2 separate regions of the Homo sapiens genome follow, and region 2 is linked to region 1. The links come from fine-mapping of genetic effects on gene expression. A gene starts in region 1. The other region holds a variant in brackets. All regions are shown on one strand. Distances are from middle to middle. Region 1 holds the start of PPP1R13L (protein phosphatase 1 regulatory subunit 13 like). Region 2 has its middle 6.7 kb from the start of ERCC2.

Region 1 (4,000 bases):
TTCCTCATGTGGACCATGGGAAGAATTAATACCTTCGCCTCAAAGGGGTATGAGGATTGAGTGACATAATTTATAAGCCGTGATTAGAACAATGCAGTGCGCGAAATAAAGTTCACACATACAGGATTCATAATTACCAGATGTCCTTGGCTGTTCATTATAATAACACAGGGTCTGGCAACAGAGTGAGGGGTCCAGACTCAATGTAATTTTTTTTTCCCCTAAAAGGGCCCTTTCAACTCTTTCTGAGATCATACAAGCCCTGAGTTTTGACACCCAGGGTCTCAACTTCCTGAGCCCTTGCCTCTCAGAGTCCTAAATTTCCCCTGTACATTCCTGAGTCTGGCCAGTGATCACCCTCAGTCACTTAGGGACGGGAGGGCTGGGAGAGCCCTGGAAGATTCCAGACAGAAGCTGGCAAAAGCCCAGGGTGTGGGCAATATCCACTCTCCAGCCTCCGTTTCTCCACTCGTAATGAGGAGTCCTTCCCTGGGGTCAGCAAACCTTATTCAAAGGGAGACCTCTCAGTCACCCAAGATTCCTCTAGACAATGCGAGCTTTCCTACCTACCTACCTACCAGCTCTGAGCTTGGTACACCCAGAGCCCTGTTTTGGCAACCACGGTTATTATTTTTAATTTCATTTCAGGTTATCATCAAATGCCCTTCAAGCCCAGACATTGGGAAACACTCCTCTCTCATCAGATGCTCGCCTCCCCCATTCTGTTTTTAATCCCCCTTCTTAGGACGCATGGGGGTGGAGAGAACGGGGAGATAGACAGAGGGAGGTGCCTGGTCCTGCCCTCCCCCCGCCTCAAGGACAGACAGACACCTCCAGAATTAGCCTCTGTCCCTCCCTTATCTCCCACAATACCCCAGGTCAGACAGATGGGCGTGGAGGTGACATTTCTCACCTCAGGGTCAGGGCAAGGAGCCCTGAGGCAGAAGGTTAGTCAGAAAATCTGGCGGGGGCGGATGGAATCCCGTCCCCCAGAGAGCTGCAGAAGAAGGAGGAGGCAGAATCCTGACCCTACAAACTCTACTGCCTGTGTGAGCTCCAAGCCTCAGTTTACCCCTTCCTCTCCGTGTAATGGTTAAATGCCCGGCTATGCAAACCTCCCAGAATCCAATAGCCGCTTTCCGGAATTCTGCCCTGGGTTCTAGAACTACCTCTGCAAACCCAGCTGTTTCCCACCCCATAAGGCAATAGGGGAGCCCACCTCCGCCAGGGGGTGCCCTAGGGCGGATGTCCCTTCTCTGGTTAGGCAGGTCTGACGCCCAGGTTAATGACATGTTGGGTTCGCTCAGCGGCACAGAGGAGGTTGGAGATCTGCCTCGGTGTTTTCTCTCCTACCCCGCCCCCATCCCCGAGCCGAAAAGTCGGGGGAGAGCCGGGACACAGCCTCCGGAGGGACCCCGGGTACCTGTCCTGCTCCACTTCAGGAACCCAGGCTCCACTATCCCTGCCCCACCCTTAATTCTGCTCAGAGACCTAGAAGATCGGTCGAGACAGCAGCTTGAGGCTGGCAGGGTGGTCACCCATTCCACCTTGAGCCCCACCAGTCTGAGCCTCTCATTTCTGACCAAGACTCGGGGATTCGAACCCCTATACTACCCAAAGACTCGGCTTCCTAGAGCCCCCCAGTTCGAGGGACTCAGGAATTCCAGCTCCAACGTCTCCCCGGGATGAAGGGGTAGAATCCCTCCATTCCAAGAATTCAGGCATCCGAACCCGCTTTCCTTCCCTCCAGTAAAACAGGCAACGGAGTTTCCTTCTAAGGATCCAGGTGTCGGCGCGCCCCAAATTCCGCCCTGGGACCTGGCGTCCGAGTCCCCTCCCAATCCTCCCAGGGACGCGGGTGTTGGGCTTTTTCAGGGCCTCTGGTCCCCAGGAGGGTGAAACTCACGGATCCGGGCAGATCCTGGCACCTGGGGGCTTCCTCCAGCTCGGGCTCCGGCTTGGGGAGCGGAGAACGGGGCGGGGCAGGAGCTGGGAACAGGTTAGACGACGTGACTTGGGCTGGAGGGAGGCGGGTCCCGGTGGGGAGGGGGAGCCAAGGTCGCCTCGAGCACCTTGGGACTTGTAGTCCCGGAGGGACAGGACGTAGCCCAAGACGATCCCATTTGGATTCACCCAGAGTCCATTTCACAGACAGGAAGGGCGAGGCCCAGAAGCCGAGAGCGACCAGGCCAGGGAGATACAGAAGAGCCGAGACGCCTGCCTCGCTGTGGCTGGAGACTGACTCCTGAGCCCTTGCCCCACCCCTTCAGGCGCACTATCCCCTTTCCTGATCAGTATCCCCCAGGGTCTCTGAGCCCGAATCTCCCCGTCGATAAAAAGCGCGGGTTGGATCTTCAAAGGATGTCCCAGCAAGAGTTCAAAATCTTAGTTTGGACTACAACCCCCAGCAGCCTCCGCGACCGCCCTCGGGCGACTCTTTGCCTCGGGTCCTGTGGGAATTGTAGTCCTGGAGCCCGCAGGGGCTGCACCCCGGTGTCTCTCTCGCCCACGCGAAGGAAACCGTCTGGAGATCCTGGATAGGGGAAACATTTCCCCTTCCCCTTGACCCTCCCTCCGCTCTGGAAAGCCTCTCCCACCTGGGGAGAAGGGGTGCCCCAATTCTGGAGTAGGATCCTAAATCTTGGCAGAGGGGGCGGGAAGTGGCGCTGACACACTGGCCAGGAATGCAGTCGGGTCACCCTGTCTAGCCACCGTCTCGCGGCTCCAACCGCCGCCCAACGCGGGGCGGCCCCAGTGGGAAGGGAAGTGGGTGCGTCCCCCAAATCTGTGTCCACGTGCCGCTGTTTACACGCTCCCTGGGGCAGGGAGGAGTCGCCGATCAGGTCCCTTCCTGAAAGTCATCGAGGTTTCCCACGCATGAGACTAAACCCCCGAGGGCATCTACAAGTCCCATTTGATCCACAAACGCTACACCGTGCCCAGCACCACTCCACGCGTGTGGGGCTCCTGGGTCCGAGGCTCCGCCCTCGAGAACCACAAGCTCCTCCCCCTATGTTTCCCGCTCCCCCGGAGTCCAGAAGCCCCGCCCCTGGCTGGAACTTCACGCCCTCCGGACGGATTGCCCCTATTTCTCCATTTTCCCGCTTCTCCCAGTCAAGTTCTGAACTTGTGAGGCATCTGGGCCTCCCCAGAAGACATTTAACACAGAAAGCACAGCCCTACTAACTAGTATTCTTACCTGTCTCTTCAAGAATTTCAGACCAATCGACCGTCCTGTCTCTTTAAGGCTTAGGAAGAGCAGTGTGGCTGCCCCTTTAAGGAGGCGTTGCAACAAACCATATTGGACAGACGATGGGGGCGACCCATCGGGACCCGACGGGCCTCTGACTCCAGCAATACAGCGAATCAGCGGCTTTCGGGAATACATTTTTCGGAAAAAGACTTCTTCCTCGGTTTTCTGCTCTGCACACGTTGAAATTTTCCCCAGTTTTTCCTGCAGATCGGGAGTCGAGCAATGCCTACCCCCGCGCTCCCGCACCAGTTGGGCGCTCCCGGATGATGCCCTACCCCTTTGGATCCACGTGGTCTGCAACCTGGTGCGAGCAGCCCGGGCTACAGGGTTGCCTGAGGTGTGGGTCCCAGGATGGAGGAGCCCCAGGCCGGCGGTGAGGGTGCGGGTTGACGGGGTGCGGAGGGTGCGTTGGTGGAAGGAGAAAGGGGCGTCCGAGAGGGTTCGGGCGGAAAAGGAGGCGTACCTGCAAGCAGGACTTGCGAAGAGCGTGCATTCCCAGTGGGCGAACGGGAATTCGAACGGAGAGAGGGTTATCTTGTGGGGGGCTACCCGTGGAGAGCAAGGCGCCCCCAGGGGTTGGATCGGTGAAATTGAGGTCGCCCCTGGGGAACAGGTGGGCAGAAAGGAGAAACCAGGTTGAGGGGACTGGAGTGCTCACGAGGTTAAGACCAATGGACCGATAGGCGCGCCCTGCAAGATTGGACCGGCAAGGAGGTGTCAGTCGACCCCATTTCCCCTTCTGCTGCA
Region 2 (4,515 bases), 28 kb before region 1:
AGAAAGAAGGAAAGAGAGAAAGAGAGAAAGAGACAGAGAGAGAGAGAGAAAGGGAGAAAGAGAGAAAGGATGGAAGGACCCTGACAAGCACTGTTGCATAAAAGTTTCTTTTCTCTCTCTTTTTTTTTTTTTTTTTTTTTTGAGACAGGGTCTCACTTCTGTTGCTCCAGCTGAAGTGCAGTGGTGAGAACATGGCTCAGTGCAGCCTCAACTTCCCAGGCTTAAGTGATCCTGCCACCTCAGCCTCCTGAGTAGCTGGGACTGTAGGTGTGCACCACCGTGCCTAGCTAATTTTTTGTATTTTTAGTAGAGACATGGTTCCGCCACGTTGCCCAGGCTGGTCTTGAACTCCTGGGCTTAAGGGATCTGCCCGCCATGGCCTCCCAAAGTGCTGGGATTACCAGCGTGAGCCACTGTACCCAGCCTGAGTATAGGTTTCTGATAAATTTTAGGATCATATTGTTTGGACTGGGTAAGAATTTCCAGAACTCTAATGAAGAAACTGACTGGTTTATATTTTATTTTATTTTATTTTATTATTTTTGAGATGGATTTTCACTCTTGTTGCCCAAGCTGGATTGCAGTGGCACGATCTTGGCTCACCACAACCTCCGCCTCCCGGTTTCAAGTGATTCTCCTGCCTCAGCCTCCCCAGGAGCTGGGATTACAGGCACCCACCACCATGCTCGGCTATTTTTTTTTTTATTTTTTTATTTTTAGTAGAGACGGGGTTTCACCATGTTGGCCAGGCTGGTCTCGAACTCCTGACCTCAGGTGATCCACCTGCCTTGGCCTCCCAAAGCGCTGGGATTACAGGCATGAGCCACTGTGCAAGGCCTAGGCTGGTTTATAAAATTGCTAAACCAAGCAGAACATGAATTAAATACCAAGGAAATACTCTCCTAGATTGTCATGTTACATCAGCCAATACTAAAATTGTCAAGATACACAATTTGAATGAACTCCATGGTCCAAGTCGAATTATCTATGATATTACCCATCTAATAAACAGCACTATGTCCCTTAATGGGAGAAAAAGTTGGAGAATTTAAGAGAATATCAATCCAATGTTGGTTGGGTGCAGTGAATCATGTCTATATTCCCAGCACTTTGGGAGGCCAAGGCAGGAGGATCACTTGAGCCCAGGAATTCAAGGCCAGCCTCGGCAACACGGTGAGATCCTGTCTCTACGGAAAATTAAAAAAAAAAAAAGAGAGAGATTAGTGGGATGTGGTGCCTATAGTCCCAGCTACTTGGGAGGCTGAGGCGGGAGGATCATTTAAGCCTGGGACGTTGAGGTTGCAGTGAACCATGAGTGAGACTCATCTCAAAAAAAAAAAAAAAATGGCGATCACTAGAGGAAAAAAAAACTAAAGTGGGGTTTGCGGGTAGTGGGAGGGCCCTTCCTGCTAGGTTGCACTATGATCTCCAGGGAGGCTCCACGGGAGAATCATTTCCTTGTCTTTTTCAGTTTCTAGAGCCAAATTCTTTGCATACCTTGCATTCCTTGGCTCGGAACCCCTTCCCTAACCTTCAAAGCTGGCAGCTAGCCTCTGGCTCAAGTGTCACATGGCCTGTCTCTGTCTTCCTATCCAATCTTCCTCTTATAAGAACATTGGAGCCAGGCATGGTGGCTGACGCCTGTAATCCCAGCACTTTGGGAGACCGAGGCAGGCGGATCACAAGGTCAGGAGTTCGAGACCAGCCTGGCCAACACAGTGAAACCCCGTCTCTACTAAAAAAATACAAAAAAGTAGCCGGGCATGGTGGCAGGTGCCTGTAATCCCAGCTACTTGAGAGGCTGAGGCAGGAGAATCGCTTGAACCTGGGAGGCAGAGGTTGCAGTGAGACGAGATCGTGCCACTGCACTCCAGCCTGGGTGACAATGCAAGACTCCATCTCAAAAAAAAAAAAAAAAAAAGAACACTGGAGACCAGGTTTAGGGCTCACTCAGATACTCCAGGATTATTGTCTCATTTTCAGATCCTCAAGGTCAGCACAACTGCAACCTCCCTTTTACCATATAAGGTCACATTCACAGATTATGAATTTGACAAACCAAAAATTGGTCATAAACTATGTTAGCAATTTGGAAACAGTCATCATAGCAATATATTTCATTTGAATCATTATCTCTCTCATGATGAATCACGGAGTGCAGAGGTTTGGTTTTATTTATTATTTTTCTTTTTCTTTTTTTTTGAGACGGAGTCTCGCTCTGTCACCCAGGATGGAGTGCAGTGGCGCGATCTCAGCTCACTGCAACCTCCACCTCCTGGGTTCAAGCAATTCTCCTGCCTCAGCCTCCTGAGTAGCTGAGATTACAGACGCCCACCACCACGCCCGGCTAATTTTTTGTATTTTTAGTAGAGATGGGGTTTCACCATCTTGGCCAGGCTGGTCTTGAACTCCTGACCTCATGATCCACCTGCCTGGGCCTCCCAAAGTGTTGGGATTACAGGCGTGAGCTATGGCTCCTGGTCTTTATTTATTTTTCATTTTTAAAAATTATTTTGAGGCCAGGCGCGGCGGCTCACGCCTGTAATCCCAGCACTTTGGGAGGCCGAGGCAGGCGGATCATGACGTCAGGAGATCAAGACCATCTTGGCTAACACAGTGAAACTCCATCTCTACTAAAAATACAAAAAATTAGCCGG[A/G]CGCCATGGCGGGAGCCTGTAGCCCCAGCTACTCGGGAGGCTGAGGCAGGAGAATGGCATGAACCCAGGAGGCGGAGCTTGCAGTGAGCCGAGATAGTGCCAATGCAGTCCGGCCTGGGCGAAACAGCGAGACTCCGTCGCAAAAAAAAAAAAATAATAATAAATAATAAATAAAAATAAAAATAAAATAAAAAAATAAAAATAATAAAATAAATAAAAATTATTTTGAGACAAAGTCTATTCTGTGGCAGAGGCTGGAATGCAGTGGCGTGATCACAGCTTACTGCAGCTTCTACCTCCTGAGCTCAAGCGATCCTTCCACCTTGGCTTCCTGAGTAGCTGGGACCTCAGGTGTACATTACCACGCTCAGCTAATTATTTATTTATTTATTATATTTTTGTGACGGAGTTTCGCTCTTGTTGCCCGGGCTGGAGTGCAATGGTGCTATCTCAGCTCACTGCAACCTCTGCCTCCTGGATTCCAGTGATTCTCCTGTCTCAGCTTCCTGAGTAGCTGGGATTACAGGTACATGCCATCACGCCCAGCTAATTTTTGTATTTTTAGTAGAGACGGGGTTTCATCATATTGGTCAGGCTGGTCTCGAACTCCTGACCTCAGGTGATCCACCTGCCTTGGCCTCCCAAAGTGCTGGGATTACAGGCGTGAGGCACCACGCCCGGCAATTTTTTTTTTCTTTTTTTTTTTTCAGACAGAGTCTTGCTCTGTCACCCAGGCTGGAGTGCAGTAGCGTGATCTCGGTTTACTGCAACCTCCATCTCCCGGGTTCAAGCGATTCTCCTTTCTCAGCCTCCCAAGTAGCTGGGACTACAGGTGCACACCACCACGGCGGGCTAATTTTTGTATTTTTAGTAGACACCAGGTTTCACCATATTGGTCAGACTGGTCTCAAACTCCTGACCTCAGGTGATCCATCTGCCTCAGCCTCCCAAATTGCTGGGATTACAAGCGTGAGCCACACACCTGGCTTAATTTTTTTATTTTTGATCGACACAGGGTCTCCCTATGTTGTCCAAGCTGGCAGAGATTTTTGTTTGTTTGTTTGAGAGGGAATTTTGCTCTTGTAGCCCAGGCTGGAGTACAATGGTGCAATCTTGGCTCACCACAACTTCCGCCTCCCGGGTTTAACAGATTCTCCTGCCTCAGCCTCCCAAGTAGCTGGAACTACAGGCACCTACCACCACACCAGGCTAATTTTTGTGCTTTTTAGTAGAGATGAGGTTTCACCATGTTGGCCAGGCTGGTCTTAAACTCCTGGCCTCCAGTGATCCACCCGCCTTGACCTCCCAAAGTGCTGAAATTACAGGCGTGAGCCACCGCGCCTGGCCTCTCAACCTACAATTTCAACACCCAAGGAAACAGCCCACCATGAGTGAGAACCAGCAGACACAACAAACTATAGGATTAGCTGCCTCCAAACTTCAGGTGATAGAATTATCAGGCATGTACTTGAAACTAAAGGACACAAAAGAAGAATCCGAAATATAAAATAAAGGATTGGACTTGTGTGAAAAGAATCCCTTAGAAAGGGCTACTTTCAGGCTGGCCATGGTGGCTAATGGCCTGTAATCCCAGCACTTTGGAAGGCCGAGGTGTGTGGATCACCTGAGGTCAAGAGTTCAAGACCAGCCTGGCCAACATGGTGAAACCCCGTCTCTACTGAAAATACAAAAATTAGCCAGGTGGGGTGGCAGATGCCTGTAATCCCAGCTACTCGGGAGGCTGAGGCAGGAGAATCGCTTGAACTCAGGAGGCAGAGGTTGCAGTGAGCTGAGATTGCGCTATCGTGCCCCAGCCTGGGCACTAGAGTGAGATCAAAAAAAAAAAAAAAAAAAGAAG

What was found. PIP is the estimated chance that this variant, and not a neighbour inherited with it, causes the effect. A credible set is the group of variants that fine-mapping cannot tell apart.
Region 2: its variant is the best candidate, but not a certain one, in a credible set for the expression of PPP1R13L in whole blood (INTERVAL, PIP 0.72).

Annotation. Positions count from the first base shown.
Region 1 is chr19:45,403,093-45,407,092 of GRCh38, forward strand. It overlaps PPP1R13L (protein phosphatase 1 regulatory subunit 13 like), which reads right to left and starts at 1,977. Exons shown (of 13, transcript NM_006663.4): 1 at 1,907-1,977. It overlaps POLR1G (RNA polymerase I subunit G), which reads left to right and starts at 3,552. Exons shown (of 3, transcript NM_012099.3): 1 at 3,552-3,626. The coding sequence starts at 3,605. RefSeq lists enhancers at 1,863-2,658, 2,629-2,828.
Region 2 is chr19:45,375,021-45,379,535 of GRCh38, forward strand. No RefSeq gene overlaps it. Among named protein-coding and RNA genes, the nearest start is that of ERCC2, 6.7 kb to the left of the region's middle. RefSeq lists enhancers at 321-1,158, 1,159-1,997. The variant A/G (reference allele first, on the strand shown) is at 2,658.